Linked DNA regions of Homo sapiens: regions 1, 3, 4 and 5 are each linked to region 2. The links come from fine-mapping of genetic effects on gene expression. A gene starts in region 2. Each other region holds a variant in brackets. All regions are shown on one strand. Distances are from middle to middle.

Region 1 (6,133 bases), 110 kb before region 2:
GAGGCGGAGCTTGCTGTGAGCCGAGATCATGCCACTGCATTCCAGCCTGGGGAACAGAACAAGACTCTGTCTCAAAAACAAACAAACAAACAAAGAATGAGGTGAGGCATGTAGCACCCACAGAGCCTGTGTCTGATCTCAGTGGGAGATCTTGGGTCATCACTCAGCCCTAGCTAGTTGCCATGCTGGGATGTGGGCCCAAAGTTGCCAATTTTTTTTGTTTTAAAAGAAAAGCCAGAAACCCAAGTTTTTATGTAAAATATATGACTTCTAAATATTAGAAACTAATTCAAATACTTTTTGAACAATGTGCACATCAAAACATCCATGAGCCACTAGTTTATGAACACACACATATACTCACTAGTGTAGTCCCTTCTGGTATGGTGGAGTGTGTCTTTAATATATGACTCCTTTCAGTATCCTCAACTCTGAATCATCTTGCTCCTCTTTGAATAACTTCAGTTCGTGGGCCACCACCTGTCTCAGGAGGCCAACTTGTTCTGTTTTTGGTTTACTCTAATGGTTTGGTAGTTCTGTCTTATAGGAAACAGGAAAGTGTCTCTTTTAAACTTCAACCTAGTGGTCCTGGTATGACCTGTGAGACACACAGAATAAAATTAACTCCTCTCTTATGTGACAAGCCTCTAGATTTGTGAATTTGGCTAATTTAATCTAAAATTTAATCCAAATTTTAAAAATTGGATTTACAAGTCAATTTTTATTTCTCCAGAAATGTATCACATAGTAGTTAAGAATGAACACTCTGAAGTCAGACTATGAGGATTTGAATCCCTTCTCTGCCTTTCCTAGCTCTGTGGTCTTATGGCTTTTTATTTCACTACTTTTGGTTAGTTAATTTTTAATATAAGCATATTACTATAATTTACCTAATTACTGAATAGGTAGTACATGTAAAGCTCTTAGAACAACGCCTAGCACATGGTAAATATTCAGTAAATATTATTTAGTATCCAGATAAAGCATCCCTAGTTCCATCAGTCATTCATCAAAAAACAGTTTTAAATTTTCTTACCATATTTTTCTTACAGGTTACTCATTAATGGAAGCAATATGGTGCATTGCAGGAAGACATTTAGGTTTTGTTCCTTGTCTTTTCCCCTCTATGCCATCTCCCCCCAACTCATCTTCAAACCAGATTACAGTGACATTTATCTTTGTCTGTTCATATGTGTATAAATATAAATATATGTGTATAGACATTCATTCATTCTTGAAGGGGTGTCGTAACAAAAACCATTGGTTTAATGGGGAAAAAAGTGTAGGACTTTGGTCAGATGCCAGTCGCAAGTACCAGGTCCCCAAGTCTGTCCAACTTGGCTACAATGTTAGGGGTTCTCACAACCCCCTCCTCAGGGTCAGTAATTTGCTAGAATAACTCACAGAACTCAGGAAAATGCTATACTTACTATTACAAGGTATTATAAAGGATACAAATGAACAGCCAGATGAAGAAGTACCTAGGGTGAGATCTGAAAGGGTTCCAAGCACCAGAGCCTGTCTCTGTGGAGTTGGGATGTGCCACCTTCCCAGCACATGGATGTGTTTTCCAACTCAGAAGCTCTTAGACTACTGTTGTTTAGGAGGTCTTGTGGAGTACATAGCCATGATTGATCAGATCATTGGCCATTGGTGATTGGGTTCAATCTCTGCCCCTTTACCTCCTGCAAGACTGGGGGGTGGGGCTACAAGTTCCATCTCTCTAATCATGGCATGGTCTTTGTAGTGACCAGTCCCTGTCTTAAAGCTATCTAGAAGCTCCTCAGCCTAATGTTATCTCATTAACATGAAAAAGACACTTACGTAGATTTCAAGGGTTTTAGGAGCTTTGTGCTAAGAACCTAGGACAAAGACCAGTTATTTTTTATTATACCATACTTGTATGCCTGCCAGTGGCACAAACTGAATTCAAAGACTGGTCATGAATCTTAACATCCCTTTTGATTGAATGGTTGCATCATTGAATTCCAAATTTTCTTGTATAATCTTTCCTAGTTCATGTTGGTTCAACCAGGAACTAATCCCAGGTTTTAATTGCTCTAATCAAAATCACCATGCAAGAGAATGTTTTCATTTCTAGCAGTCCATAGTTCTCTGTCATTGTCCTCTGAATCATCTAGCTGGTCAAAAGATTGGAGAGTATAACCATTTCAGATCCATAAGAAATATAAGTTCTTCTTTATTTGAGGGCTGTTTAGAAGAAAGTTAAGAATTCTTCTGTGTAGGGGTCAAAAGAAAACTTCCCTTCATCCTCTGAAGGTTCACTGAAAATCACCTGACAAACAGCAGATTAATAGGAGAAATGGCATACAGATTTATTAATGAAAGGGAGGTGGGGAAATGTGGGTGATTTTAGAGGAGGGTTGTAAATTATTTTTAGGGGAATTCAATGGACTTGAACATACAGTGGCCTGGGACAAAGTCTATTGAGCCTGCTAAGCATTCAGTGGTTTGTGACAAAAGTCTGGCTAGGTGTGTTGACAGACTTCCGTCTTCCTGCCCTATGAGTTCAGTTAATGAAAACTCAGGGAGGGGACTGTTAGAAATGCTTATTCCCGGTGCCACAAAGAAATAGCACTCAAACATAAATTTAATTTTCACAGAAAGGCAATTTTTACTTTCTG[C/T]GGAAAGGGTGCTCCTTGCAGATGGAACAATGGTGAGACCACACCCGGACAGGGGAGGGGAAGGAGTTCTTGTTCCTGACGCAGGTATCCCCTACTGCTGTGTCATTCCTGTATTGGCTAGGGTTGGCCCGCACAGTCTAAGCTAATTCCAACTGGCTATTTTAAAAAGAGCAGGGGGTATGAGCCAGAGTGGTAGGGTGAGTAGTTTGGCGGGAAGGATGGTTAGAAACAGGTAACTAAAGGTGACTTAGGTCAGAGCAGGTGACCAGGGGTGACTCAGGTAAAGCAGGTGACCGGGATGAGTCAGGATGGACCAGGTGACCAGGGAACAGATGTGAACTACTGATTAGGACTGGTGGGAAAGTTGTTTACTGAAACTTAGAAGCAAGGGGGTGAAGAGAACCAGGAAGCTAAACTTTAAAATGGAGAATCAAAGAATAAGAGAGCTGAACATACTGACATACTGATTCTTTGAAGAGAAACTTGGGGTTCACTATATTTAACAGGATCAAAGGTAATTTTCTTCTTCTTTGGTGGGCCTGGACTTTAGACAGATAAGGAAACTTCACAGAACAACTTCATACTGTGTTTTGCGAGAAAGAGGATCAAGAGATGGGAAGAAACAGGGGAAGGTCGGAGAGACTCTGAGGCTGCTTCTTCAGCATGTCAAAGTGCCACAGTTTGGGGTATCAGTTTCTGAGCCCCAGCACCTGCAAAAGTGAGTCTCTGGATTGGGATTATATGTATAATAGTGACATGATTAGGCAAATAAAAGGCTTTAATTTCTGTGTTTACATCGAAGCTGAATAATCTTGGATATAATGTAGGCAGCTTGGGTATAATGTAGGCAGCTTCATCTCATGACCAGCTACAATGTCATTTGTTCATCATTACATTTAACAATGCCAAGAGGGTACAGAAACATGGATTCCCCTCTTCCCCAGCATCTCTGTCCCTGCTTGGAACTTAAAAGATCAGGAATAGCTTTACCTTTGGGTTTCATGTGGATTGAGCTAAGGAACTTATCTCTGGTTGTTTTTATCCTCACGTAGAATCTATTTTGTACCATGAAGGTTTGGGATATAATGGGATTGTGAGGTGAGGTGCAAGTGTGGATGAGAGCAAATTTGTTTCAGGGTTCATCTGGGAAAGATTGCAGTGTTTTTTCCTGGATATCTGAGAAACACGTTTTTCCACTTCAACTTTACTGAGAAATTTTGCTGTGGAGTTGGTTTTGGACCTAGTTGAGTATCCCCCGACACCCCATCCTACATCCTGCACTGTGGCTGCAGGTTTTCTGTCCTTTCTGTCTCTAGCAATCAGTATTTGCCCTCACTTCTTAGGGGGAAAGGAAAGGAAAGGATTAGTTGAGAGCCAAGGTCTGTGAATATATGGCTACTCAGTCGGTGAGTAGTTATTTTGTTGCCCTTTAGTTTACCAGCTTACTTTTTCTATTGCTTTCGTCTAATCACTTACTAATTCTGTTAGTTGGAAGTTAGTAGAGAGGTCAAGGTAGTAAGTGCTTTGGTAGTAGAATACAATCCCCCCCACCCCTTCCCTCCCTCCAGTTTTTAAAAGTGCTTCTGTATGCCAGAGGATACAGGCCCTCAGGAAATTTTTTTTTCCTTCAATACCCTATTTTCTAGGAAAAGAAACCTGAATTTCCATATGTTTGATTAAATGAGTCTTAAACCCTGAAGTGTGGAGAGGACCAATTGTGGCAGTCTTCTGTGTTATAAAAACATTTAATTAGAATCTCTCTTCATTTAGCATAACTATAGAACCTTTTAGGTAAGAGTCTTAACATGTGTGTTTCTGTATAACTTATCTTTCCATTATCTCCCATCTCTTATTCAGTAAGATAAATAGCATCTTTTAAAGTAATTCTGATGAGGTAAATTTAAAATATTCACTTAATTGAAAGATGAGAAATATTTTTAATTAAAAAAACACTATTACAAAAATTACTTAACCTTATAATAATTCTTTAATATCTTTAATGTTGATTTTTATATGTTGAAAGTCTTTGGATGACTTTTTAATTGCTAGTGCTTGTCAAAAAATTATTAATTTGTATGTACTGTTATTTTTTTATGGACTGAAAAAGGACACGTCTTTGCTGACCATACATGATTTATTTTGTTGTTCAATATTGAATTTTCTGCTGCTTCTACGAGAAATAGAAAACAGATATTATTTCAAATTCTTCACTGCATGCCTGGTCAACTGTTACTTGCTCAGATGTCTTTTTAAAATAACTTTTAAAACTTACTAGGGAATAGAGGAGATAACTCTTGCCCTATTTAAAACTAGCCTTGATGAAATTATGCTGTTGCTGGATGAATTAATACTAATCTTTTCTCCTACAGAGAGCTGCCAAAAATATGACTATGACTTTATTTCATTTAATATTTTAATCAATATAAACTACTTTTTGTTTTTATAAATAAAAATCTGTATTTTTCAAAATTTTTCAGGAAAAAACAGCTGATGAGTCAATGTATATTTTGATTTACATTTTGAATACTTTTTATTATTCCTTCCAAAACAGACACTCCTAGAATATGCAGAGAAATGGAAAACTTCAGAAGATCCTTTACCTTTATTGGAGGTATACACAGTGGCTATCCAAAGTTATGTTAAAGCCCGACCTTATCTTACCTCTGAATGTGAAAATGTAGCCTTGGTTCTGGAACGCTTGGCATTGTGAGTAGACCTTTGAGTAAATAAACTAGATTTAGCTTTAAAAATACATAGACACACACACACACACACACACACACACACACACACACACACACACACAACATTAAATCTCAAGTCTTATAGTTTAATTTTAAATAGATTAGTTATGGGGAGTCTGCTTATGATACTAGAATTACTGGTTTTATAATTTCCTTTGAATTTTAATAATTATTCCTCTCCTTACCAACTTTTTGTTTTTTAGAAGCTGTGTTGAACTTTTACTGTGTCTGCCTGTTGAGTTATCAGATAAACAGTGGGAACAATTTCAGACACTGGTGCAGGTGAGAATCTTTATCTTTAGATTTAATACAGGTATATCTTATGTCAGTTTTCCTTACTCTTAAAAAAATTATTCAGTTAAACTTTAAGACATCTCAATAATGACAGACATTAATTACTGATCTTATTGACACTAGTATCTTACATAGAGTAGATCTCAACAAATGTTTGCTAAATGTATATATACATTTAGATAGATTGAATAATCGTTATGATCAGATAATTAGGGCTTTGTAAGAGCAGCAAGGGAACACAAAAGAAAGTGCCCTCATTTGGATTTAGAAACAGTTAAACTGGTTTCTGAAAGTCTTCAATGTGCTTTATAAGAATTTCACATATATCATTTAATCCTCATGAAAATTTGTGTGGATAGGTATATTTTCCCCATTTTAAAGGTGAGGAAACTGAGGCTCATACTCCAAAATAATTATATGCCCAAACTTGTCTAGCTAAGATCACATAGT
Region 2 (6,133 bases):
AATTTCTTAAAAGCAGCATAAAATGGAATGAATTATAAACAAAAATGACTAAACACGTCCTATCATTCACATTGTATTCATATCCATGAAATGGGCAAGGCCTTCAGGCTTTTCTCTGTTATCTTTACCTACAGCTTGTGCTCTTTTCTTACACATGCTTATGTTTCTTGTATTCTTTCATCTGATCACTTTCTATTGATCATGACAGTAAAAGTACTTTGTTTCCATAGTGATATTTGACATGTTACAGATCACTGAGAACCCTAAGGGATAAGAAAAAAGTTTGGGTCTGCTTAGGATGCAACATAATAATATTTTATAGCCTTCCAATTGTTTTTAGCTACTGCAGTAACAGCTTTTTAATTGAAATTTAACTTATTTTGTCAGAAGATTGCCTTGTAATACCAGTTGTCAATGAACTTTTAAAAATTAAACCTCAAGCCAGGTATATACCTAAAAGAAAGGAAATCAACACATCAAAAAGATATCTGCTCTCCCATGTTTACTGCAGCACTATTCACAATAACCCAATTTAGATGCAATCTAAGTGTCCATCGACAGATAAATGGATAAAGAAAATGTGGTACATATACACAACAGAGTACTATTCAGCCATAAAAAACAATTTGCAACCACATAGATGGAACCGGAGGACATTATTTTCAGTGAAATAAGCCAGGCACAGGAAGACAAACTTTGCATGTTCTCACTTATTTGTGGGAGATACAAATTAAAACAAAAGAACTCATGAAAATAGAGTAGAATGATGGTTACCAGAGGCTGGGAAGGGTAGTGGGGATGGGGGGAGTGGGAAATGGGGATTTTTAGCGGGTACAAAAGTATAGTCAGATAAAATGAATAAGATCTAGTATTTGATAGCACAACACGGTGACTACAGTCAGCAATAGTTGATTGTACATTTAAAAATAACTAAGGGTATAATTGGAATGTTTGTAACATAAATGATAAATCCTCGATGTGGTGGATACCCCATTTACCCTGATGTGATTATTATTCATTGTATGCTTGTACCAAAATATCTCATGTACCCCATAAATACATACACATAAATATTAAAAATTTTTAAAAATTAAACCTCAAATCAAATGTGAAGTTAATTTGGCTTGGGAGAAAAAGTTTTAAATTCGAAACATATTTACCAAAGCTTTACATAAACCCATGCCAAAATATTGGTACCTTCTATTCCAACTATTCTGTTCATTTTAATATAACTTGTGTAAACCAGAAAGTCTATGAGATAGGTCTCAATCAATTTAGAGGTTTATTTCACCAATGTTAAGGACCATGGCCTGTGACACAGCCTCAGGCAGTCCTGAGAACATGTGCCCAAGGTGGTCGGGCTACAGCTTGATTTTATACATTTTAGAGAAATGGAAGTTACAGGCAAAGACATGTATCAATACATGTAAGGTATACATTGGTTTGGCCCATCTCAAAGCAGCGTGGGGGTGGGCTTCCAGGTCAAAGATGAATTCAAAGATTTTTCACATTTTCAATTAGTTGAAAGAGTTAAGCTCTGCCTGAAGATGTGAAGCCAGCTGGAGTTAAGGTAAGCGGGGGTGTTGTGGCAGCCAAGGTTCTCCTTATGTAGATAAAGCCTCCGGGTAGCTGGCTTCAAAGAATAGATGTGAATGTCTCTTATCAGACCTTAAAAGATGTCAGACTCTCTGGAAAAGACCTAGTAAGGGGCCAGGCACAGTGGCTCACGCCTGTAATCCCAGCACTTTGGGAGGCCGAGGTGGGTGGATTGCCTGAGGTCAGGAGTTCGAGACCAGCCTGACCAATATGGTGAAACTCTGTCTCTATTAAAAATGCAAAAATTAGCTAGGCTTGGTGGCATACACCTGTAGTCCCAGCTACTCGGGAGGATGAGGCAGGAGAATTGCTTGAACCCAGGAGGTGGAGGTTGCAGTGAGCCGAGATCATGCCACTGCACTCCAGCCTGGGTGACAGAGTGACACTCCGACACTCCATCTCAAAAAAAAAAAAAAAAAAGATCTAGTAAGGGAAAGAGATTTTCTATAGAATGTAAGTTTTCCCCAACAAGAGACAGCTTTGCGAGGCCATTTCAAAATAGTCAAATAAATATATTTTGGGGTAACATATTTTTATTTCTTTCAGGTCCCACTATGTGTCACGTGATGTTATTCCAGAGTCAGGTTGGAATTTTCTTATTGCTACAGTATATTTTACCAGTCTTACGATCTCCGTTTTAATGTTAATGCTGGTCAGTTGTGTCTAACCTCCAACGGGAGGAAGGTATAATGAGGCATATCCAACCGCCCACCCCTTCCCATCAGGGCCTGAACTCATTTTTCAGGGTTTTTTTGAGATTACCTTGGCCAAGACAGAGGTCCATTCCTTTCAGGGGTGGGTTGGTGATGGTGGTGCTTAGAATTTTATTTTTGGTTTTTGTATTAGTCTCTTCTCACACTGCTAGAAAGAACCACCTGAGGCTGGGTAACTTATAAAGAAAAGAGGTTTCATTAGCTCACAGTTCCACAGGCTGTACAGGAGGTATGGCTCCAGAGGCCTCAGGAAACTTACAATCATGGTGGAAGAGGAAACAAGCACGTCTTACCGTGGTGCAGGAGAGAGAGAGAAAGAGAGAGAGTGTGAAGGGGGAAGTGCTACACTCTTATAAACAAACATCTTCTGAGAACTCCATCATGGGAATGGCAAGGGGGAAGTCGGCCCCATGATTCAGTGACCTCTCACCAGGCCCCTCCTTCAACACAAGGGGGCTATTATTCCATATGAGATTTGGGTGGGGACACAGAGCCAAACCACATCAGTTTTCACGTGTATCCCAACAAACTTAAACATCAGCAAAGTATGTGCAAACCAGCATCCCTATATCTATTCTTGTCTCAACTGCACCTGCATACATCCTGCATCTTGGACTCTCAAGGCCCTAACGTAATGGCAGAGTATTAACTCTACACTTAAATGACTGTTCCCCTAAAGTAGGGGTAGGAAGAAATCAGATCTAGCTTTCTTTCCCAAATCAGAATGCTTTCCACTTTCATGAAATAAACATACTTCTAGGAGATGTCTCCTTTTATTTATACAAACATACACACCGAACTGGAACGTAATTTGAAGTTGGGAGGTGGAAAACTAAAGGTCAAAAAGGGAAGAAAGCAAAAACGTCCCTTGCACACTTCAGCCCGCAGACCCCAAGGAGGGGCGCGAGGTCCTCAGAACCGGAAAGGCTAGCACTGGATGGGTCCCCGCAGCCCCGCGCCGCTGCGCCGCAGCCTCCGGAAGACAGGGGACGCTGTGGCGCCGGGCGGGGCGCCCTCCGCCGCTCTCTCTAGCAGGCGGGGCGGCGAAGCGGGGCGGGGCGTCTCGGGCGAGGAGAGGAGGTGACCCCGCGAAAGGTAAGCGGCGGCTTCGGTGGTGTTGAGTGGCTGGGCGCCGGCCTGGAGGGGCCAGGGCGGCCGCACCATCACGCTCCCGTCTCTGCCCTTCCCAGCTGCCCTGCCGGTCTCCCTCCCAGGGAGGGAGCGTCCTCTCGGATAGCCCAAATCTTTGCCTCTCCGTGGACTCCCTGTACCCGCACCCCAAGTCGGTGAAGCTCTCTGGCCCCACAGAGCCCATTTCCCGTACTCACCTTGCGGGCTCCAGTTTGTTCGGTGCTTCATCCATGGACACCCCCACCCCGAGAACTCTCTCGTTTCCTGCAGTTTCTTAGTGTCTTGGCTCACCAGACTCATAGGGGAACATGGTGGTGTTTTGAGGAGACGCCGCTTTTCTTTTGTCATAGTGCGGACACTCGTGCTTTTTCAGCCCTGCAACACAATGTGTAGAACTTAACGGAATGAAGTTTTCTTTTGGAGGCTTCCAATGCGTCTGTCTTTGAGTAAGCCTTCGGCACCGAACAGTAGTCCATGACATTGGGGGAAGCCAGATGAGACTCAGATTGTCAGTACTCAGGCTGTCGCCAGCAAAGCCTTTCCCCTTTTTTCAGAGACAGTACTACATCCAAGAGGTGGAAAGATACTTTTGTTTTGTTTTGTTTATTTATTTATTTGTTATTATTATAAGTTTTAGGGTACATGTGCACAATGTGCAGGTTAGTTACATATGTATACATGTGCCATGCTGGTGCGATGCACCCACCAACTGGACATCTAACATTAGGTATATCTCCCAATGCTATCCCTCCCCCCTCCCCCCACCCCACAACAGACCTCAGAGTGTGATGTTCCCCTTCCTGTGTCCATGTGTTCCCATTGTTCAATTCCCACCTATGAGTGAGAATATGTGATGTTTGCTTTTTTGTTCTTGCGATAGTTTACTGAGAATGATGATTTCCAATTTCATCCATGTCCCTACAAAGGACATGAACTCATCATTTTTTATGGCTGCATAGTATTACATGGTGTATATGTGCCACATTTTCTTAATCCAGTCTATCATTGTTGGACATTTGGGTTGGTTCCAGGTCTTTGCTATTGTGAATAATGCCGCAATAAACATACGTGTGCTTGTGTCTTTACAGCAGCATGATTTATAGTCCTTTGGGTATATACCCAGTAATGGGATGGCTGGGTCAAATGGTATTTCTAGTTCTAGATCCCTGAGGAATCGCCACACTGACTTCCACAATGGTTGTACTGGTTTACAGGCCACCAACAGTGTAAAAGTGTTCCTGTTTCTCCACAGCCTCTCCAGCACCTGTTGTTTCCTGACTTTTTAATGATTGCCATTCTAACTGCTGTGAGATGGTATCTCATTGTGGTTTTGATTTGCATTTCTCTGATGGCCAGTGATGGTGAGCATTTTTTCATGTGTGTTTTGGCTGCATAAATGTCTTCTTTTGAGAAGTGTCTGTTCATGTCCTTCGCCCACTTTTTGATGGGGTTCTTTGTTTTTGTCTTGTAAATTTGCTTGAGTTGATTGTAGATTCTGGATATTAGCCCTTTGTCAGATGAATAGGTTGTGAAAATTTTCTCCCATTTTGTAGGTTGCCTGTTCACTCTGATGGTAGTTTCTTTTGCTGTGCAGAAGCTCTTTAATTAGATCCTATTTGTCAATTTTGGCTTTGGTTGCTATTGCTTTTGGTGTTTTAGACATGAAGTCCTTGCCCATGCCTATGTCCTGAATGGTAATGCTTAGGTTTTCTTCTAGGGTTTTTATGGTTTTAGGTCTAACGTTTAAGTCTTTAATCCATCTTGAATTGATTTTTGTATAAGGTGTAAGGAAGGGATCCAGTTTCAGCTTTCTACATATGGCTAGCCAGTTTTCCCAGCACCATTTATTAAATAGGGAATCCTTTCCCCATTGCTTGTTTTTCTCAGGTTTGTCAAAGATCAGATAGTTGTAGATATGTGGCGTTATTTCTGAGGGCTCTGTTCTATTCCATTGATCTATATCTCTGTTTTGGTACCAGTACCATGCTGTTTTGGTTACTGTAGCCTTGTAGTATACTTTGAAGTCAGGTAGTGTGATACCTCCAGCTTTGTTCTTTTGGCTTAGGATTGACTTGGCGATGTGGGCTCTTTTTTGGTTCCATATGAACTTTAAAGTAGCTTTTTCCAATTCTATGAAGAAAGACATTGGTAGCTTGATGGGGATGGCATTGAATCTGTAAATTACCTTGGGCAGTATGGCCATTTTCACAATGTTGATTCTTCCTACGCATGAGCATGGAATGTTCATCCATTTGTTTGTATCCTCTTTTATTTCCTTGAGCAGTGGTTTGTAGTTCTCCTTGAAGAGGTCCTTCACATCCCTTGTAAGTTGGATTCCTAGGTATTTTATTCTCTTTGAAGCAATTGTGAATGGGAGTTCACTCATGATTTGGCTCTCTGTTTGTTGCTGGTGTATAAGAATGCTTGTGATTTTTGTACATTGATTTTGTATCCTGAGACTTTGCTGAAGTTGCTTATCAGCTTAAGGAGATGTTGGGCTGAGACAATGGGGTTTTCTAGGTATACAGTCATGTCATCTGCAAACACGGACAATTTGACTTCCTCTTTTCCTAATTGAATACCCTTTATTTCCTTCTCCTGCCTAATTGCCCTGGCCAGAACTTCCAACACTATGTTGAATAGGAGTGGTGAGAGAGGGCATCCCTGTCTTGTGCCAGTTTTCAAAGGGAATG
Region 3 (6,133 bases), 86 kb before region 2:
GTCAAGCAACTGCTCTAGCAAAGCTGTGTTCTGACCATCCAGAGATTGGCATAAAAGGTAGTTTTAAGCAAACTTACCTTGTCTGTCTTTGTACATCATCACCAAATGGAAAGTTAATCGAAGAGGTGAGTATGTTTTCTTTCATTAGTAATTATTTTTTAAGTTGAGAAATTAATTTTTAATTAGAATGTCTTTGATTTCCTTTTCTCTTAGATAGCGAAGAGATCATTGTCAATCTTACATTTTTGGTATGTTCTTGAGTGGTGGCAACTTGATTCTAAGTAGCTTTTAGAATTATATGTAAACTGATTGCACCTAGTTTCTGTTTTAAATAATATACATCTTTTAAATGCTTTGGCTAAATTGTGGGAAAGATAGTGGTGGCTTAACAGTTTAGTAAAATATCTATATTTGTCAGCTTTTGGCCTTAACTTCAATCTTGTCTGACTTCAAGATACTTGCACATCTTTTAAACTGGCTAATTTAAGTAACTTTATAGAATTTTTGTGACTTATCTCTGGAAATACTTTGTCATATAAATTCTATATAGAATATATATATGCACATCTATGCTATATATCATTTTGAGTACGTATTTATTTGCCTATTTAATGTAAAACCTTATTTTCTCTCTGAGACATTGTCTTTTCACTTCTAGTTTGGTATAAAGCATAGTATTCACATATTTGTATAGTTTATGACTACAAAATTCTGAGAATGGAATCATGATCCAAATGGGAATTTTGCAATTTTGCATTTTGAGGGACTTACAATTTCAAAAGGAAGTTGGAAACAGGGTAGGAGAATTAGAAGTTGTTGATCAAGAAACAGGGCGTGTATATTTAAAGAATTTAGATAAAACTATACTAGATTGGCTGGGTGCCTGTGGCTCACGCCTGTAATCCCAGCACTTTGGGAGGCCGAGGCGGGCGGATCACGAGGTCAGGAGTTTGAGACCAGCCTGGCCAACGTAGTGAAACTCCTCTCTCTACTAAAAATACCAAAAATTAGCTGGGCATGGTGGCGGGCACCTGTAATCCCAGCTACTTGGTAGGCTGAGGCAGGAGAATCGTTTGAACCTGGGAGGTGGGGGTTGCAGTGAGCCAAGATCATGCCACTGCACTCCAGCCTGGGTGACAGTGTGAGACTCTGTCGCAAAAAAAAAAAAAAATTTTTTTTAAAGAAAACCTATAGTAGGTTGATCAGTGTTCAGTGGGCACTGAATGTGTACGGGTGTCTTATATCTGTAATAACATATCCTTTGACTCCAGAGCAATAGAGAGGAAAACAAAGGGATTGTAGGTAAAACATAAGGATATGTTAAGGGAAAAATTGAGATATAAGACAGAGAAGTAAACTAATAGAGCATGCATGATCCTCTTAGGTATTGTCATCAGTCTCAAAGCAGAATAGCCTCATACAGAAAGCTCAGTGCCACATGAGGTTTGTAATGATGATTGTGTGATTTTTTTTTTCCTTGAGAATAGACAAGTAGGAAGGCAAGTGGTAGGCTTGGACCAAGATAAGAAATAAACCTGTTGGGTTTCTTATGTGAGGATATTGAGGATAGTGGGAAGAGTAATGTCAGACAGTTTGTAGGCTAGATGGAGTGGAACCATGGTCTGTAGCCTAGGATACTATATCACTATTAGTTTGGACTTCAACTAGTCTATAGATTTTTTTCTTTATTATTTATTTTATTACAGGTAATTGGCCTTTTAATTGCTATTATATATGAGAGCAAAATAGAAGACTGACATTTTCTTATTAGTTCCAAATAACTAGATAAGTTAATTTGCAGATGTATAAAATTTATTGAAATCACCTTTGACGTGTTGTAACATTTTTAAAAAAATCATTAGTTATTGTGCTGCTGCTTCTCAGATATTTTTCAGTGCCACGAAAGCTTTTATTATCAGTTCAGTCCCTGCCCTTAAGGTTCATCTGACCTCCCTTCCCCTTCCACAGATTTGTATTAAGTGAATGATTTTTTCTGTATAAGCATTGGGGGGGATTGGGGGAGGTGGGATTTAAAGGTGAATAAGGGGTAGGCCCTTCACTAAAGAAGCGTATCTCCTGTTAGGAAACTGACTATCTAAGCATAGAGTTGTTGGGTTAGCTTTGAAGTTGAAGACTGTGAATCTGTGTCTCAAGTAAAAATCTAGTAAAAAAAAAAAAATCTGTATTTCTAGCTCTCTGAATAATCCAGTCTTGCAATACTGAGCCTAAGTTCCTTCTTGGTTTAATTATCCAGAGTTGAGTAACAACAGTCCAGCCTACTCTGGGAGATGATCAGGAAAATTCTGTGAAGACCCTGGGTACTTCCAGTGTCATATGGAACTATTTCCCTCCCCCCCACTTCTCATGTTAAGCAGGTAGAATTAAGACTTTTCATGTTCATAAGCAGGGTTCACTAAGGTTTATATACTCCATCCCAGGAAAAAAACTAGATCATATAGTGCAGAACAGGACAGATAGATGTTAAGTCTACACTTACATAGCACTACACATATATAGTAACATTACTTTGTTAAAAGTCCCTTGTTACAAAGTAACAACATTACTTTGTTAAAAGTCCTTTTTTGCTTAGAGATGATTGCTCTTTAATGTTTCTGTTATAAACACATTAGAAACTTATTCATTGTTCCATATGAGGTGAGTTAAGATTTATTGTCCCCAACCCAGAGACATTGCCCCCTTTAGAAGAGGTGTGCACCATGTGCTCTCTCACTTGCCCACCCTACTCTTTGTCCACTTCATTAATGTACGTTACTTGCCTGTTTCTTACAAGTATTTGAGGTTTGGTTTTGTTTACGTGTTCCTTAAAGGACAGTGGGAACAGACTTTGTTAGAAGGAGTCAGCAATGGCCTGGATTGGTGGTGATCTTTCTGAGGAAATCTTTGTCCAAGTGAGGCAAGGGATTGACTGTTTCCCAGGACCCTTTCGGTGTGATAGAAATAGCAGCTAGTTGATACCCCATAGGTTGTTTTTTTTTTTTTTT[T/TA]AAAAAAGAAAAGAAATAGCAGCTAGCCTTGGTAGATGGCAGAGGAATGGGGCTGGGAGAGATTAAGTGTTTATCTGGCCTTTCTGGAAGGAATGAACTTTGGTCTGGATTCTTGGTATAGTAGTAAAAAATTAAGTTAGCAGTGTCTAGTTTAGATCCAATATTTCTATTTGTTTTATCATTAAAATATAGAAGTTTAAAAACTAAAACTTTCTATCTTGTATCTCTGTAGCTGTCTCATTTCCCTAATTAATACTCCACTAGGTAATTATTATTAAGATTAAAATTTGATATATAATCTTTCTGACATTCTTCTATGCACATACATGCATTTTTAATACTTAAAATCGCATACACACTCCCTGGTTGCCGGTCCCTTTTCCCTCTATTATTGTGGACATGTTTCCATATCATTTCATATAGATCAACCTTATTCTTTCTCATGGCTACATAATTCCATAGTATGCATTTGTAATATCTTTAACCAGATTGGTAGACACTTACTTATATTGTTGCCTTTTACATACATCCGTGTATCCTTGTGGGGAGTATACTGGTAGGGTAAATTTCTGGAAGTGAAATTGCTGGATCAAAGAATCAACACATTTTAAATTGATAGGTTCAAACTATCCTCCAGAAAAGATTATGGCAATTTATGTTTCCAAAAACAGTGTGAAATATCTTCTTAGAGATTATTAGTCTTAAATATTTGCTAGCCCAAGAGTTAATTTTGATTAACTCTTGATTTTATATTTTCTTAGTTATGACAGGTTTAACATTTATTTTCTATATGGAAAGCAATATTATTTTGATAAGCAAATCAATTTTTTAAACTGTTTGTTTGTTTGTTTTTTTGGAGACAGAGTAAGCTTGCTCTGTTGCCCAGGCTGGAGTGCAGTGGTGTGATCTCAGCTCATGGTACCTCTGCCTCCGGGGTTCAATTAATTTTGCCTCAGCCTCCCAAGTAGCTGGGACTACAGGTGCACGCCGCCATGCCTGGCTAATTTTTTGTATTTTAGTTGAGACAGGGTTTCACTGTGTTGCTCAGGCTGGTCTCAAGCTCCTGAGCTCAGACAATCCTCCTGTCTTGGCCTCCCAAAGTGCTAGGATTACACACGTGAGCCACCGCACCCAACTGAAACTGTTTTTGAAATGTGATTACAGCCAATACTTTTTAAAAGTATACTTCGTAAATTCATATAAAATATTGATAGTGTTCTATATTTTTTGAATAGTTGGCATAAAGAGCCATTTTAAAACATACAAATTATTATTTACATCTTTGAAATAATTGTTATGCTTTACAAAGGGACTTTATTCAGCATAATGTGTCTTTAGCAAACAGATCATTCTAATTGGTTTTAAATATTTTATTAAGAGTTCTAAATTTTCTGGTATTTAAATTTTTGCTCATTTGTCAGAGCAATAGAGAATAGTCCCTATATAGGTAATATACTGGTAATCTCTGAATTTTGCTTCTTTGGATTTTTAAATCTTGTTCATTGGTGGCTATGTTTCACTTTTCATGATTTTAATTAGTAATTTACTACTTTGTATATGACTTCCTTATTCCTGCATTCTATTTAATGTCATATTTTTTCAAGACAGCCATCTAGTGGCAAATAAGAGAAATGAAGGATCCCAAGTACACCATGAAAATTGTTTCATTAGTATGCCTATGAGAAATGAAGTTTGCTGTGTTACTGAATGTAGCAGATGTTTCAGTTGGTATGTTGCATGTATATGAAAAAATACACATAGGCAATCACAAATTTATATTTTTAAATATTAAGAGTAAGCTGGGCGGGTGCAGTGGCTCACACCTTAATTCCAGCACTTTGGGACACCAAAGTGGGTGTATCACCTGAGGTCAGGAGTTTGAGACCAGCCTGGGCAACATGGTGAAACCCCGTCTCTACGAAAATATAAAAATTAGCCAGTCGTGGTGGCACTAGCCTGTAATCCCAGCTACTCAGGAGGCTGAGGCATGAGAATCGCTTCATCCTGGGAGGTGGAGGTTGCGGTGAGTCGAGATCGCACCATTGCACTCCAGCCTGGGTGATTGAGCGAGTCTCCATCTCAAAAAAAAAAAAAAAGTAAGCTAATGATAGTAATAACATTGGGGAAGTAAATTTCTTGCCTTATACATAATAGATAAATTTGGTACCATATGAGCACTCAGCAAGAGTGCCTTAGGTTTTATTTTTTTGGTTTTTTTTTTTCAGTAAGTATTTATTTTTTTTATTTTTTTATTTTTTTATTTCTTTTTGGTTTTGATTTATATATTTTTTTTTTAATTGATCATTCTTGGGTGTTTCTCGCAGAGGGGCATTTGGCAGGGTCATAGGACAATAGTGGAGGGAAGGTCAGCAGATAAACAAGTGAACAAAGGTCTCTGGTTTTCCTAGGCAGAGGACCCTGGGGCCTTCCGCAGTGTTTGTGTCCCTGGATACTTGAGATTAGGGAGTGGTGATGACTCTTAACGAGCATGCTGCCTTCAAGCATCTGTTTAACAAAGCACATCTTGCACCGCCCTTAATCCATTTAACCCTGAGTGGACACAGCACATGTTTCAGAGAGCACCAGGTTGGGGGTAAGGTCATAGATCAACAGCATCCCAAGGCAGAAGAATTTTTCTTAGTACGGAACAAAATAGAGTCTCCTATGTCTACTTCTTTCTACACAGACACAGCAACAATCTGATTTCTCTATCTTTTCCCCACATTTCCCCCTTTTCTATTCGACAAAACCGCCATCGTCATCATGGCCCGTTCTCAATGAGCTGTTGGGTACACCTCCCAGACGGGGTGGCGGCCGGGCAGAGGGGCTCCTCAATTCCCAGAAGGGGCGGCCGGGCAAAGGCACCCCTCACCTCCCGGACGGGGCGCCAGCTGGGCAGAGGCGCCCCCCCACCTCCTGGACGGGGCGGCTGGCCAGGCGGGGGCTGCCCCCCACCTCCCTCCCTGACGGGGCGGCTGGCGGGCCGGGGGCTGGCCCCCACCTCCCTCCCAGACGGGGTGGCTGGCCGGGCGGGGGCTGCCCCCCACCTACCTCCCGGATGGGGCGGCTGGCCGGGCGGGGGCTGCCCCCCACCTCCCTCCCTGATGGGGCGGCTGGCCGGGCGGGGGCTG
Region 4 (6,133 bases), 23 kb after region 2:
TTTACCAAAGATCAGGGAGATTCTCAGTCAGGAGTAGAACCTGTATCTTCTTGCTCTAAAGTCTAGGGATCTTTTCACCATACTATACCACCTTCTATGTGTAAATGTGCACATAATAATAAAGCAGCCACATTAGCCCTTAAAAATAAGAAGTTTAGATCTTAAGTAGAGAAACACTCCTGTACTTTAAAACAGAATTATGTAAAGGACTGTTAACTGCCAGCTCCCTCACAAGACCATCAGAACAACCTGATGATCAAACAAAACTAAGCTTATTAAATCTACTGCACTAAAGGGAAATACCACTTTTACAAAGTTAGCTGTATTTAAGAATGGGATGGTCAGGGGAAGATATTAAAGTCTTTTGGAAGTCTGAGTTCAAGTGATTAAAGAAGGGTCTTTCAATGCAGGAATCTGGTTGAGAATGGGCAAGGTACCTGACAGAACAGATTAGATCTTGAAGCAAGTCTTGATTAGTAAACTATTGTTCAATAAATGTTAAGTGAACTCTTTGCCCAGGGGAGTAGTCTAATCTTCTGATGGAAGAGCTGTTTGCCTAGATCAGCAAGCTGTCCAATTGATAAATTGTTTTTCAAGGATTTCCTAAGGCAAACACTGAAAGTATTTATTGGTTTTACAGCCTTATCTTCCATAGGAGGCCCAACTCTTCCAATTTGCCAGACACTAAGGAAGTTCAGGACTTTCAGTTTTAAAACAGGGACAGTCCCAGGCAAATCAAGGCCAGTTAGTTATCCTTCCATCTGGGCAAGAATTTCTAGTAACAGATAGGAAAGTTATTGGCACAAGTAGCCTCAGTTCTCAATCCAGATAATTAACTGTGTGGATGCAGTAATCCTCATTCTTCATACTAATTCATCTCTTTGTTTTTAATTCCTCTCCAAGTCCCAGTTAACCCTTTTCTTGAAGTCAAATCTGGCACAATTTGATAGTTACTTAAGGTCTTCAGCCAGTTATCAGGCCGTATGTGTTAATATAAATTATAGAGTAACTTGTGGTACACTTAGCTCAGGGCCCTATGGGAGTCCTGTTGTTGAAATTAATTTCACTGATGGCACTCACTTATTATAAAATAGTCCTGCCAAGTAGATGCAGCATATGACATTGTCAGGCAATTTTATAAATTCAGTTACTTGGTACAATCAGTTGCACAGATTTTTGCGATAGGTGGAATTTCTATGGCTGTTTATCTAAAATTATAGGAACAAATTAGTTAACCATGTGATTTTTAAAACCAGGCTTAGTAATTTTGAATGCTGCCTTAATGAAAGTAATTTCTTCTTCAAGATACCATGATATTTCCCAGTTTTATTACCATGGCACCAACACATCATGTTTATTAAAAACCTAAAAGAAATTAAGCTACCTCCATTGCTGGCCTTAAAAGAAATTAATTCTTTAAAAACTAATTTAAAACAAAGTGTGGTAGGCTGACTAATGCTCTCCTTCCCTGCAAAAATGTCCAGATCCTAATCTCTGGAACCTGTAAATATGGGACTTTACGGATATGGGTAAGTTTAGGATTTTGAGATGGGGAGATTATCCTGGATTATCTAGATGGGGCTGGTATAATCACCAAGGTCTTTAAAGCACGGCAGAAGATCAGAGGAAGAGACAATGTCACTATGGAAGCACTGGGGGAAAAGGCTATATGATGCAAGGCCATGACCCCAAGGAATATGGATGGCCTTTAGAAGCTGGAAAAGGCAAGCAAACACATTCTCCTCTGAAGCCTGCAGAAGGAACCAGCCCTTCTAACAACTTGATTTTAGCCCCTAAGACTCATTTTAGACTTCTGATCTCCAGAAATGCAAGAGGATAAATTTGTGTTACATTTAAACTATGAAGTTTGTGTAGTTTGTCACAGTGGTGCTATGGTTTGAATATTTGTCCCCTGCAAAACTCATGTTGAACTTTAATCCCCAACGTGGTAGTATTGAGAAGTGGGGCCTTTAAGGGGTGAGTGAATTCATTCATGGGTTAAGGGATTGATGGATTATCATGGGAGGAGAACTGGTGGTTTTATAAGAAGAGGAAGAGAGGCCTGAGCTAGCATGTGAGCTCAGCCCCTGGCCATGTCATACCCTATACCACCTCAGGAATCTTCAGTGAGTTCCCACCACCAAGAAGATTCTTACCTGATGCAACTCCTCCACCTTGGACTTCTCAGCCTCCATAAACTGTAAGAAATAATTTCATTTTCTTTATAAGCTATCCAGTTTCAGGTATTCTATTATAAGCAACAGAAAACAGAGTAAGACAGCAGCAATAGGAAACTAATATAGAAAGTATCAGGAAAATGAATGGCTGTATCATGCTCCCTTTTGTCATTATTTGAAGTTGCTTTTATGAGCAAAGCTTGTCTTACCTAGCAACAGTTGCCAAGTAAGTTAACAACTTAATGCTAGAGTCTGGGAAGGAGCAACTACTTAAATCTTCCCAAATCTGGTGCCCATACCTTCTATGGCAGGGGCTTTTAGCACCATTCTTTAACGTTAGACACATAACCACAGCCTAATCACTTGAACCATTTAATCCTTACCAGCCTCTAGCATTATCCTAAAACCCTGAACCTCTTCCAGCTTTCTTAAACTTTCAGCTTTTCTTGAAACGACTTTTTCTGATTCTAAGATTATTTTAACTGTAAGTAGGAGAAGACATCTGAAATTTAACTATGATCAGAAATTCAGATTACAAAAACTTTGTTTGCTGTGCTGTTTGTAATAAAATAATTCCACCAGCCCCTTTTGGAAAAACCTTCAAACGGATCCATGAATACAAGCCACTTAAGACACGCTTTTACACTCACAAAGACATACTAGGTAAGTGACTTTATCGTTTTCCTTTGTTCTAATGCTTCATAGCCTTATGTGTCATTCTTTCTGTTACATAGACTTTTATCAGCTTTTTTCTCTTCAGAGTTGCTTGTCCCTACAGGGATATTTGAGGAGAATATGGGTTGGAATACAGCTTCTCCACTTACAGTTGTATGTATTGGGCAGGGTATTTAGCCTCTCAATCTGTTTCCTTATGTGGAAATAAATATACTAATACCTATCTTACAGGTTGTTATGAGACTTTAATGAAGTATTTGTATCTATTATAAATCCTGGCACATAATAGTAAATGTGAGTTCATTTTGCCCTTGGCCATACTTGAGCACCTTTCAGTATGTGTAGGAGAGGAAATATTATCTCTAAATAACACCCTAATTGGATGGGCACAGTGGCTCACACCTGTAATCCCAGCACTTTGGGTGGTCGAGGTGGGCAGATCACTTGAGGCCAAGAGTTCAAGACCAGCCTGGCCAACATGGCGAAACCCCGTCTCTACTAAAAAAATTTAAGCAGGCATGGTGGCATGCGCCTGTAATCCCAGCTACTCGGGAGGCTGAGGTAAGAAAATTGCTTGAACCCAGGAGGTGGAGGTTGCAGTGAGCTGAGATCGTGCTACTGCACTCTAGCCTGGGTGACAGAGCGAGACTCTGCCTCAAAAAAAAAAAAAAAAAAAAAAA[AT/A]TTTAAAGTACCCTAATAAATGGGTAAAAGAAACTATATAACCTTTAAATAGTAGCTGGTAGCATAAAAGTAGATACATATAGATAACATGAGGACGTTTACTGTACATACGTATGTATATATAATAAGCAAATCAAATTGTACTATAGGTTTCCATCTCTCTTTTATCCCCGTAAGAGTTTTCAGTCTGACCTTGAGCCTTGTAGGTATTTTCCTAAGAACTCTCACAATACTTCTCTGATCCTCTCTTCCTTTAAAATGGTAAACTAAGGGTGATTTCATTTCACTCCTGATATTTGAAAATATAAGAAGCTGGAGAGCAGAGGTGTTTGGAAAAAAAAACTAAAATGTAGGGGGAGATCAAATTGGAATCATCTTCTAAAAACATCAATTCCAAAATTGTTTCTTAGCATTTAGTAAGTGCTTAGTATGAATGATTCATTATGATCTCTAAAGTGACTTTTCATACCCAGGACAGTGTATCTCCATTCTTAGATATACCTTAATGATTGATTCCTTATGCCTTATGGAATATCTAACCCAAACCTTAAGTGGATAAGTTAAATCTATTGTTAGAAATTAATCTTTTCTATTCAGTGACCTTTGTCATTGAACTGTTTTAAGTTAAAAAAGAAAGAAAGTTGAAATTGTCTGTTCTTTATAAGCATTTTGAAATGTCCGTAGAAGAGCTAGTGAGTATTTCATAGGACGATAGTTCTCAATCCTGGCAGTGCACTATATAGAACTTTGAAAAAAAATATTAATACAGATATCCAAACACAGACCCACTGGATTTAATACTAATCTAACACAGAGCCACTAAATTAGGACCTCTACGGTCAGGACTAAGCATGTGTATTTTTTCCTTCACGTTTAAATAACCTTTTTTATTTCAAGATAGTTTAAGACTCACAAGTTGCAAAATAGATCAGAGTTCCCCTGTACCCTTCATCCAGCTTCCATTGATATCTTACATAATCCTGGCACTTTGTCAAAGCTGGAACACTGGCATTGAAACAATACTATTAACTCAGGTACAGACCTTATGTACACTTTTTTCCCCCGGCATAGAGTTTTATGAAATTTATCATGTGTGTATATTAATGTGCCATCACCACAATCACAACATGGAGCTGTTCCATCACCACAAAGGAACTCCCTCGTGTTACCCCTTAGCTGTCACTCTCTTCTCCCCAAACTTGAACCCCTGACAACCACTAATCTGTTCTCTATCACTATAATTTTATCACTGAGAATGCTATCTAAAGAATCATAGATTATGTAACCCATTGAGATTGGCTTTCTTCACTCAGCACAATGCCCTTGAGATTCATCCAAGTTGTTTATCAATAGTTTGTTCCTTTTACAGTATGTGCATTTTTAAAAAAAGCTTTGCAGGGATCCTGTTGTACAATCAGGGTTGAGAACAACTAATAAAACCAATGGGATTTAAACATAAAAGAGGATAGTGATAGCCTACACTTGTATCACATTTTTATGAAGTTCAATACGTTGATGGTCCATGCTTAGTCACATTTTGTCCTAGAAAATCTTTTCTAATTATTTCTACACAATGTTGGGCTTTTGCAGTATGTGTCCATCTCCACCGTAATATATGCTGCCCTGTGTTTTTAAGATTCGCTGATGAACTAGTAGGAGACTCTGTGCCGCCAAACATATACTTTTAATTGCTAGTGACAGAAACATAACTCAGAATAGACTGCATGAAATGGAATTTCTTGACTCTTTTAACAGAGAAACCCAAGGGAAATCTGGCATCAAGGCTTTCAATCTGTCCATGCTTACCCTTTTAGTGAGTTGGCTTAATGGTTTACTGCTGCAGCTAGACTTACTCCGGCAGCTGGGAAAGGAGGAATGTGGATCCAGATAGCTCTAAGAATCTATTACCTTCAGCTTAGAAATCCCAGAGGAAGACCAGGCATGGTGGCTCACGCCTGTAATCCTAGCACTTTGGGAGGCCGAAGTGGGCAGATCACTTGAGGTCAAGAGTTCGAGACCAGCCTGACCAACATGGTGAAAGCCCGTTTCTACTAAAAATACAAAAATTAGTCAGGCATGGTGGTGGGCGCCTGTAATTCCAGCTACTCGGGAGGCTGAGGCAGGAGAATCACTTGAAACGGGAGGCGGAGGTTGCAGTGAGCCGAAATGGCGACACTGCACTGCAGGCTGGGCTACAAAGCAAGACTCCCTCTCAAAAAAAAAGAGAAATCCCAGTGGAAAAAGACCTGGCTGTCTGATATTGCGTGGTCCTCTAGCCTCTCTAGACTTTTATTACCTTGTCTGGGTAGAGAGGATATTATTATGGGAATGTTATTATTTGGAAATCAAATTAGATCATTGACAGAAAAATAGTAAACTTCTACCCCTTAGCTCACTCCATACTGAAGCAGTTAAACCCACAAAGAACCACATGCTAAAGAAAGGCATGTAATGTGAAGGCATTCCACTTCCCTTCTCCTGATGCTAGCCCTAGCACCCAAATAGGAACAGGGAGAGAGAGAGCTGTATAATGTGCTAAGACCTCTTGAATATTCACTCATCATTCTACTTTGGGTGTACAAAATATGTCCCTTTCTTCG
Region 5 (6,133 bases), 120 kb before region 2:
AGAACTGTGCAAAAGCAAAGACTGCTTGTGTTCATGACACACACACAAAATCTTGAAAGATAATCTGAGAGACTGCGTATTTAGTCCTTCCTAATGAAGACTTTCTAGTCTTTGTATTATTCCCAGAAAGCATAAAAAGACGGACATATTTCATAATATAAAAATGAATTTTTATGGTAAAAATAACAAAGCCAACAGGGAAAACAATAGATCCAGAAAATTATTTCTAAAACTGTTGATGAACAAAAGGTAAATTTCTGTAATATATTAAATTCTTGCAGTGTGACAAGAAAAGAGACCATCAGTGTGATAGAGCAACAGACAAAACAAATCCAAATGTCCAACAAATGAGAAAGGAGGTCAGATTCATTATTAGTTAAAGAAGTGCAAATTAGAGAAACTGTAGAATTTAATAGGCTGTATATGACTTCTTGCTAGAGGTAATACAGAGAAAGGCACTCTCAAACTTTGGTGGACATGAGAAAACAACCTTTTGGGAAAGCAATGTGGCCAGTAAAATAAACCTGGCCAGTAAATGTGTTAGTAAAATAGCATATCTGTTTGCTATATTCTAGCAGTTGCTCTTCTGGAAATCTATCCCATAGCAGAAAATTTAGTATTTCATTTAATTGCAGTAGGTTAGGTAGTACCATAAATGTTTTTGAAACCTGAGTACAATTTGAGAATATCAGATTTTTAACATTTGGGTTTTTTTTTTTTTTTTTAAAGCATTAAGTAAGGCTGGGCACAGTAGCTCACACCTGTAATCCCAGCACTTTGGGAGGCCAAGGCGGGTGGATTACCTGAGGTCGGGAGTTCGAGACCAGTCTGGCCAACAGGGTGAAACTCCGTCTCTACTAAAAATAAAAAAAAATTAGCTGAGCCTGGTGGCAGATGCCTGTAAGCCTAGCTGCTTGGGAGGCTGAGGCAGGAGAATTGCTTGAACCCCAGAGGCGGAGGTCATGCCACTGCACTCCAGCCTGAGCAACAGAGTGAGACTCGCTGTTTCAAAAAAAAAAAAAAAAAAAAAAAGCATTCATTAGAGCCTGAGTTAGTTTCAATTTTTTATCTAAGAAGTATCTGTTTTAGTTGAAAGAAGTACATTCATTTCTAGCTTTCAACAGTAGGTGTTTTCAGTCTTTGATTCTGGGTTATGAAGTTGCTACAGTTAAAGGGATTTTCAGATCATTTCTATTTTAAGAATATTTATGTATCTTAAGAACAGGTCTCTCTGAAATGTAGTTAATTTTTCCTGAAGATAAAAGTAATATGATTTGAATCATTGCTGTTTTAAGCAATGTTTAATAGATACTGATTGGTATTTTCTTTTTCATCAGTTTCAAATTGATTCTATAAATTTGATAAGTTGGAGAGAAAATTCAGATAGCTAGAGATCTGTGTAACAGATGACACCAATTAGCTTAAAATTTAAATCCTGACATAACCAAGTCACCATTGCATGTTTATTTTATTTATTTATTTATTTATTTATTTATTTATTTATTTTTTGAGATGGAGTCTCGATCTGTCACCCAGGCTGGAGTGCAGTGGCGTGACCTCAGCTCACTGCAACCTCCGCCTCCCGGGTTCACACCATTCTCCTGCCTTAGCCTCCCGAGTAGCTGGGACTACAGGCGTCCGCCACCACACCTGGCTAATTTTTTGTATTTTTAGTAGAGACAGGGTTTCACTGTGTTAGCTAGGATAGTCTTGATCTCCTCACCTCGTGATCCGCCCGCCTGGGCCTCCCAAAGTGCTGGGATTACAGGCCTGAGGAGCCACGCCCGGCCCATTGCATGTTTATGTGTTCCATGTTAGTCATTTTAGAAAATATTAACATTAGAACTGCTTTGTAGTTGGGAAATGGATGAGACTTAAAATAGGTTTTATAAGATACGAAGTACTTAAATATATTAGACTTGGGGAAGTTATTCTCTGTGAACTTTGCAATCTTTATCTGAAACTGAGCCAGATGTGAATCAGAATTCAGAAATGTTCTTCGTTCAAAAAAGAATATGGTGCATATATTGTATTACACAATAACTTCAAAGGGTCCTTGGGTTGCGTCTCATAAACACAGCAGAATACATGAATATTCTTACTAAATGGGATAAAAGCTATCAAATATTTCATTCCTTTTTATTGTTGAAAAATATTCAGCCATATGGATTTATTACATTTTGCTTATCCATTCAAACCATTGATGGACATTTGGCTTGTTCCTAGTTTTAGGCAGTTATAAATAGTGTTGCTGTGAACAGTCATATACTTTTCTTTTGGCCAACAAGCTTATATTCGTTTTGGGTGGATTGCTAGGAGTTGAATTGCTGGTTTGAATAGTAAATTTATGTTTAACTTTTTAAGAAACTGACTATCCAAAGTGACTGTGCCATTTTACATTCTCCTTAGCAATGCATGAGAGTTACAGTTTCTCTGTATACTCACCAACACTTGATATTGTCTTTTTAAAATTATAGCCATTCTAGTGGATGTGGTTTCTCATAGTTAAATTCGTATTTCCCTAATGGCTAATAATATTGAAAATCTTTTCATGTGCATTTTCAGCCATTTATCTTCTTTGGTGAACTGTCCATTTAAATCTTTTGCCCATTTTAAAAAACCAGGTTGTCTTTTTATTAGAGTTGTAGTAGTTCTTTATGTATTCTGGATATGAGCCCTTTGTTAGATGTATCATTTATAAACATTTTTTTCTCAGCCTATGGCTTGGCTTTTCATTTTTTAATGGGGTCTTTTGAAGTGCAGAAATTTTTTATTTTGATGAATTGAAGTCCAATTTATGAACTTTATAAAAATAGATCATGTTTGGTGTTCGAAGAACTCTTCAAGAAGTTTTATAGGTTTAGTTCTTCATTTAAGTATGGTCCATTTTGGGTTT[T/C]GTGTATGATGCAAGGTAAGCATCTCATTTCATTTTTATGCATGTAGATATTCAGTTGTCTCAGTACCATTTCCTGCGCTGAGAATGGATCACATGCCCTCTGGTTCAGCCTATATTAACATTTGTTTCTAGGAAAATGTTTTTAATTTCTTTTTCATCAAAAAGTCACTTATACAATGAGTATAAATGACTAAGGGAAAACCTATTTCTGTTTAATTTTATTTCTATTCAGAGCAGTTACTAGAGAATATAGAAATTAAAGGAATCAATCACCTTTAAAGCTGGGTTTCCTACCATTGTATTTCATGTTCTGAAGTAAGGATGTATTGTGTGTGCCAACTGGCCCATGATAGACATACACAGTAGACTGTGGCAGCCTTTCTGGCTTATCCCCAGCAAGTTGAGATTGAGGCTCGTGCTATAATTATTTATGGCAGCTAGACTCTGCTTCTTTGAATCTAATTATGTACATCCTGGGCTTGTAGGTCTCTGAAGTTACTAGGGGTTATATTCTGTATAAGGGGGTTTACTCTTAAGAATTTTGGACCTCCCACATGATATTTAGCTATATGTTGGGCTAAAGTCTTCACTTCAGATTTGAGCCATGTATTTACCTTCATTATGACTGCTTGACTATGGGAGTCACAATGTAAAGGTACAGATCAAACAGACATACTGTGTTAGTGTTTTTGGAAAGTAAGTTCAAAGCCAGAAATACTGTGGAGACTAAGCTGAAGTCAGAATTGTCCTTTTCAGAGTGTTTTATACGGAGAAACAGTTACATAGCATTATGAGAATTAATTCAGTGGATGAAACCTAAAAACATTCCCTTTCTATGTTATGTACTAGACATTTAAAAAAAAAATCTCTGCTCCCATTAAAGTCAGGTTTCTTAGCAATTAGGTTAGCATCAAACATGCTCGTGTTTTTCCAAGATTGAAACCCTTTGTGCCAAGGCATCAATGTGGTTGCTTCTGTAAGCCTAGTTTATAGCAAAGAATATGCAAGAACAGAGAAATTATGGGCCACACCATGTCAGGCTAGGGAATAGGGAGGTTTTGGGATTATGATTGGTTCGTGCCATCAGAATGCTACAAAGAGAGTAGGCCCTGGAGCCAGAAGTTTTAGAATTCTCAGAAAGTCTGGAGATTGTGTTATAGCATCCATATTGGAGATTATTTAGGGATTCAAAGCTATCAGAAACTCAGTTTTGTGAATGGTTATTTCACATCCTAGCATTGAGTATATATGGGAATGTGAATCATGTTAAATTCATAATTGATTTTCTTTGAAAATGCTAAACTGCTACTGAAATAACTACTGCACTGGGCCGTTTGCCAGGGATGGTAGCCTGAGATATGGGGAAACAAGTGTCTCAACCAGAACAATGTGGAAATAAGATTATTGGATTTCATCACAAGTAAGAGATTCTCCTGAATTCTCACAATTTGGGAGAGAGATGATATAAAGGCAACATACTCAGAAGTAAAAATGGTGGTGGACCAATCTCAACCCTGAGATTCCGAGGTAGACTTATATTTATATTATGAATTTTGTATTATGCATATGGCACTATGTATTATTTGCGAATATGAGATACAAAATGTCTTCCCAGTTTGTAGCCTTTTATTTGATTTTCTATGGGGTTTTGTTGAACAGAAGTTTTTAATTCTATTGTATCTGCAGTTATTATTATCTTCCATTATGATGTGTATTTTCTGTCTTAAGAAAACCTTCTTTGCCCTAAGGTCTTAAGATGTTCTCCTATGTTTTCATCCTAAAGTTTGTTGTTGTTGTTTTATTTTTTTCTTTGTAACGGAGTTTTGCTCTTGTTGCCCAGGCTGGAGTGCAATGGCATGATCTCGGCTCACCGCAACCTCCGCCTCCCGGGTTCAAGCGATTCTCCTGCCTCAGCTTCCCGAGTGGCTGGGATTACAGGCATGCACCACCACACCCAGCTAGTTTTTGTATTTTAGTAGAGACGAGGTTTCTCCATGTTGGTCAGGCTGGTCTTGAACCCCCGACCTCAAGTGATCCGCCCACCTCAGCCTCCCAAAGTACTAGGGTTACAGGCATGAGCCACCACACCCAGCCTCATCCTAAAGTTTTAAAGTATTGCTTTTCACATTCAGTTACTTGTCCATATAGGATATAGTTTTGTTATATGCTGGGAATAGTTATAATTTTTCTTTCCTGTTTAAATGGTTGTTTCAGGTTATTTATGGAATAGTCTGTACTTTCCTCACTGGTTTCTGATGGGGCTTTTTTATATACCATGCTCTCACATATATGTAATTCTGTTTTAAAGCTCTTTCATTTCTGTCATCTATGTCTATAACAAAATCACACTGTCTTAATTTCTATAGCTTTGGGATAAGTCTTGCTATCTGATTAGGGCAGATAATCTTCCAAATTCAAAAACCTGGCTCTTCAAAATTGATTTGGCCTTTTGAATGATTTTTAGAATCAACATGTCAAATTCTGTAAATAATCCTATGGAGAATTTCATTGGCATTGCTTTGACTTTTTAAATATGGCTCATATTGTCATCTTTAACTTGTCTTCCACTATCTATGTATGTGGTATTTCCATTTATGCACCCTTCCTTTTATTCTTTAAATAAAGTTTTATACTTTTTTTTGAAAAGATCTTATAAATACTTTGTTAGATTCATTCCTAGGTACTTCACGAGTTTTGTTACTGTGAATGTTATCTTTTTAAAAATTATAGTTTCTAACTGCTTTTTTAAAAAAATAGAATTGCAGTTGATTTTGTGTATGGATCTTATATCTAACTACTATACTGAATTCTCTTGAAGTTCTTACGTGTGCATTGTCTGCAATGGTGACATTTTTATTTTATCTTTCTGGTTCTTACTGCTTTTATTTCTTTTTCAGATTGTGCTGATTAGCCCTACAGTTTTGAATAGAAGCAGTGATAGGCATTTTTGTTTTGTTTTCTGACTTTAAAGGGAAATGCTTCTAACATTTCATACTCCCAGAATGTAGTTTGCTATGGGTTTTTCTGGATACCCTCTATCACATTAAAGAGCTTTCCTTCTGTTCCTTGTCGTAAAGAGATACTGATTCTTCTTTACCTCAAGTTGCATTTTGATTACAATATTTCCCCTTCCCCCCGCCCCATCCATGATTTTGTTTTCTGTGGTTTTAGTTACCCTGGTACAAAAGTATTACATACAGTAAGGGGGGAGAGAAAGAGACCACATTCACATAACTT

Direction of the effects. Alleles are on the strand shown, and positions count from the first base shown. SD is a standard deviation of normalised expression in the study named. Not every link is listed here.
In carriers of allele A in region 4, the expression in macrophages after interferon gamma of the gene that starts at base 3,360 in region 2 tends to be higher than with AT alone (large effect, 1.0 SD a copy in Alasoo 2018).

Evidence for each region. PIP is the estimated chance that this variant, and not a neighbour inherited with it, causes the effect. A credible set is the group of variants that fine-mapping cannot tell apart.
Region 1: its variant is the best candidate, but not a certain one, in a credible set for the expression of SMIM8 in T cells (TOPMed, PIP 0.63).
Region 3: its variant is the best candidate, but not a certain one, in a credible set for the expression of SMIM8 in monocytes (Fairfax 2014, PIP 0.55).
Region 4: its variant is the best candidate, but not a certain one, in a credible set for the expression of SMIM8 in macrophages after interferon gamma (Alasoo 2018, PIP 0.54).
Region 5: its variant is the best candidate, but not a certain one, in a credible set for the expression of SMIM8 in blood mononuclear cells (TOPMed, PIP 0.66).

What each region holds. Positions count from the first base shown.
Region 1 is chr6:87,210,707-87,216,839 of GRCh38, forward strand. ZNF292 (zinc finger protein 292) reads left to right here. Exons shown (of 8, transcript NM_015021.3): 2 at 5,197-5,351; 3 at 5,593-5,671. Among named protein-coding and RNA genes, the nearest start is that of ZNF292, 58 kb to the left of the region's middle. RefSeq lists enhancers at 921-1,674, 1,675-2,426, 2,470-3,669. The variant C/T (reference allele first, on the strand shown) is at 2,646.
Region 2 is chr6:87,319,229-87,325,361 of GRCh38, forward strand. It overlaps SMIM8 (small integral membrane protein 8), which reads left to right and starts at 3,360. Exons shown (of 4, transcript NM_001042493.3): 1 at 3,360-3,404. GJB7 (gap junction protein beta 7) reads right to left here. Exons shown (of 3, transcript NM_198568.3): 2 at 3,638-3,815. RefSeq lists a silencer at 3,182-3,471.
Region 3 is chr6:87,233,403-87,239,535 of GRCh38, forward strand. It overlaps ZNF292 (zinc finger protein 292), which reads left to right. Exons shown (of 8, transcript NM_015021.3): 5 at 1-125. Among named protein-coding and RNA genes, the nearest start is that of ZNF292, 81 kb to the left of the region's middle. The variant T/TA (reference allele first, on the strand shown) is at 3,003.
Region 4 is chr6:87,342,408-87,348,540 of GRCh38, forward strand. It overlaps C6orf163 (chromosome 6 open reading frame 163), which reads left to right and starts at 2,406. Exons shown (of 5, transcript NM_001010868.3): 1 at 2,406-2,840. The coding sequence starts at 2,693. The variant AT/A (reference allele first, on the strand shown) is at 3,533.
Region 5 is chr6:87,196,714-87,202,846 of GRCh38, forward strand. The region is part of intron 1 of ZNF292 (zinc finger protein 292); the gene reads left to right. Among named protein-coding and RNA genes, the nearest start is that of ZNF292, 44 kb to the left of the region's middle. The variant T/C (reference allele first, on the strand shown) is at 2,897.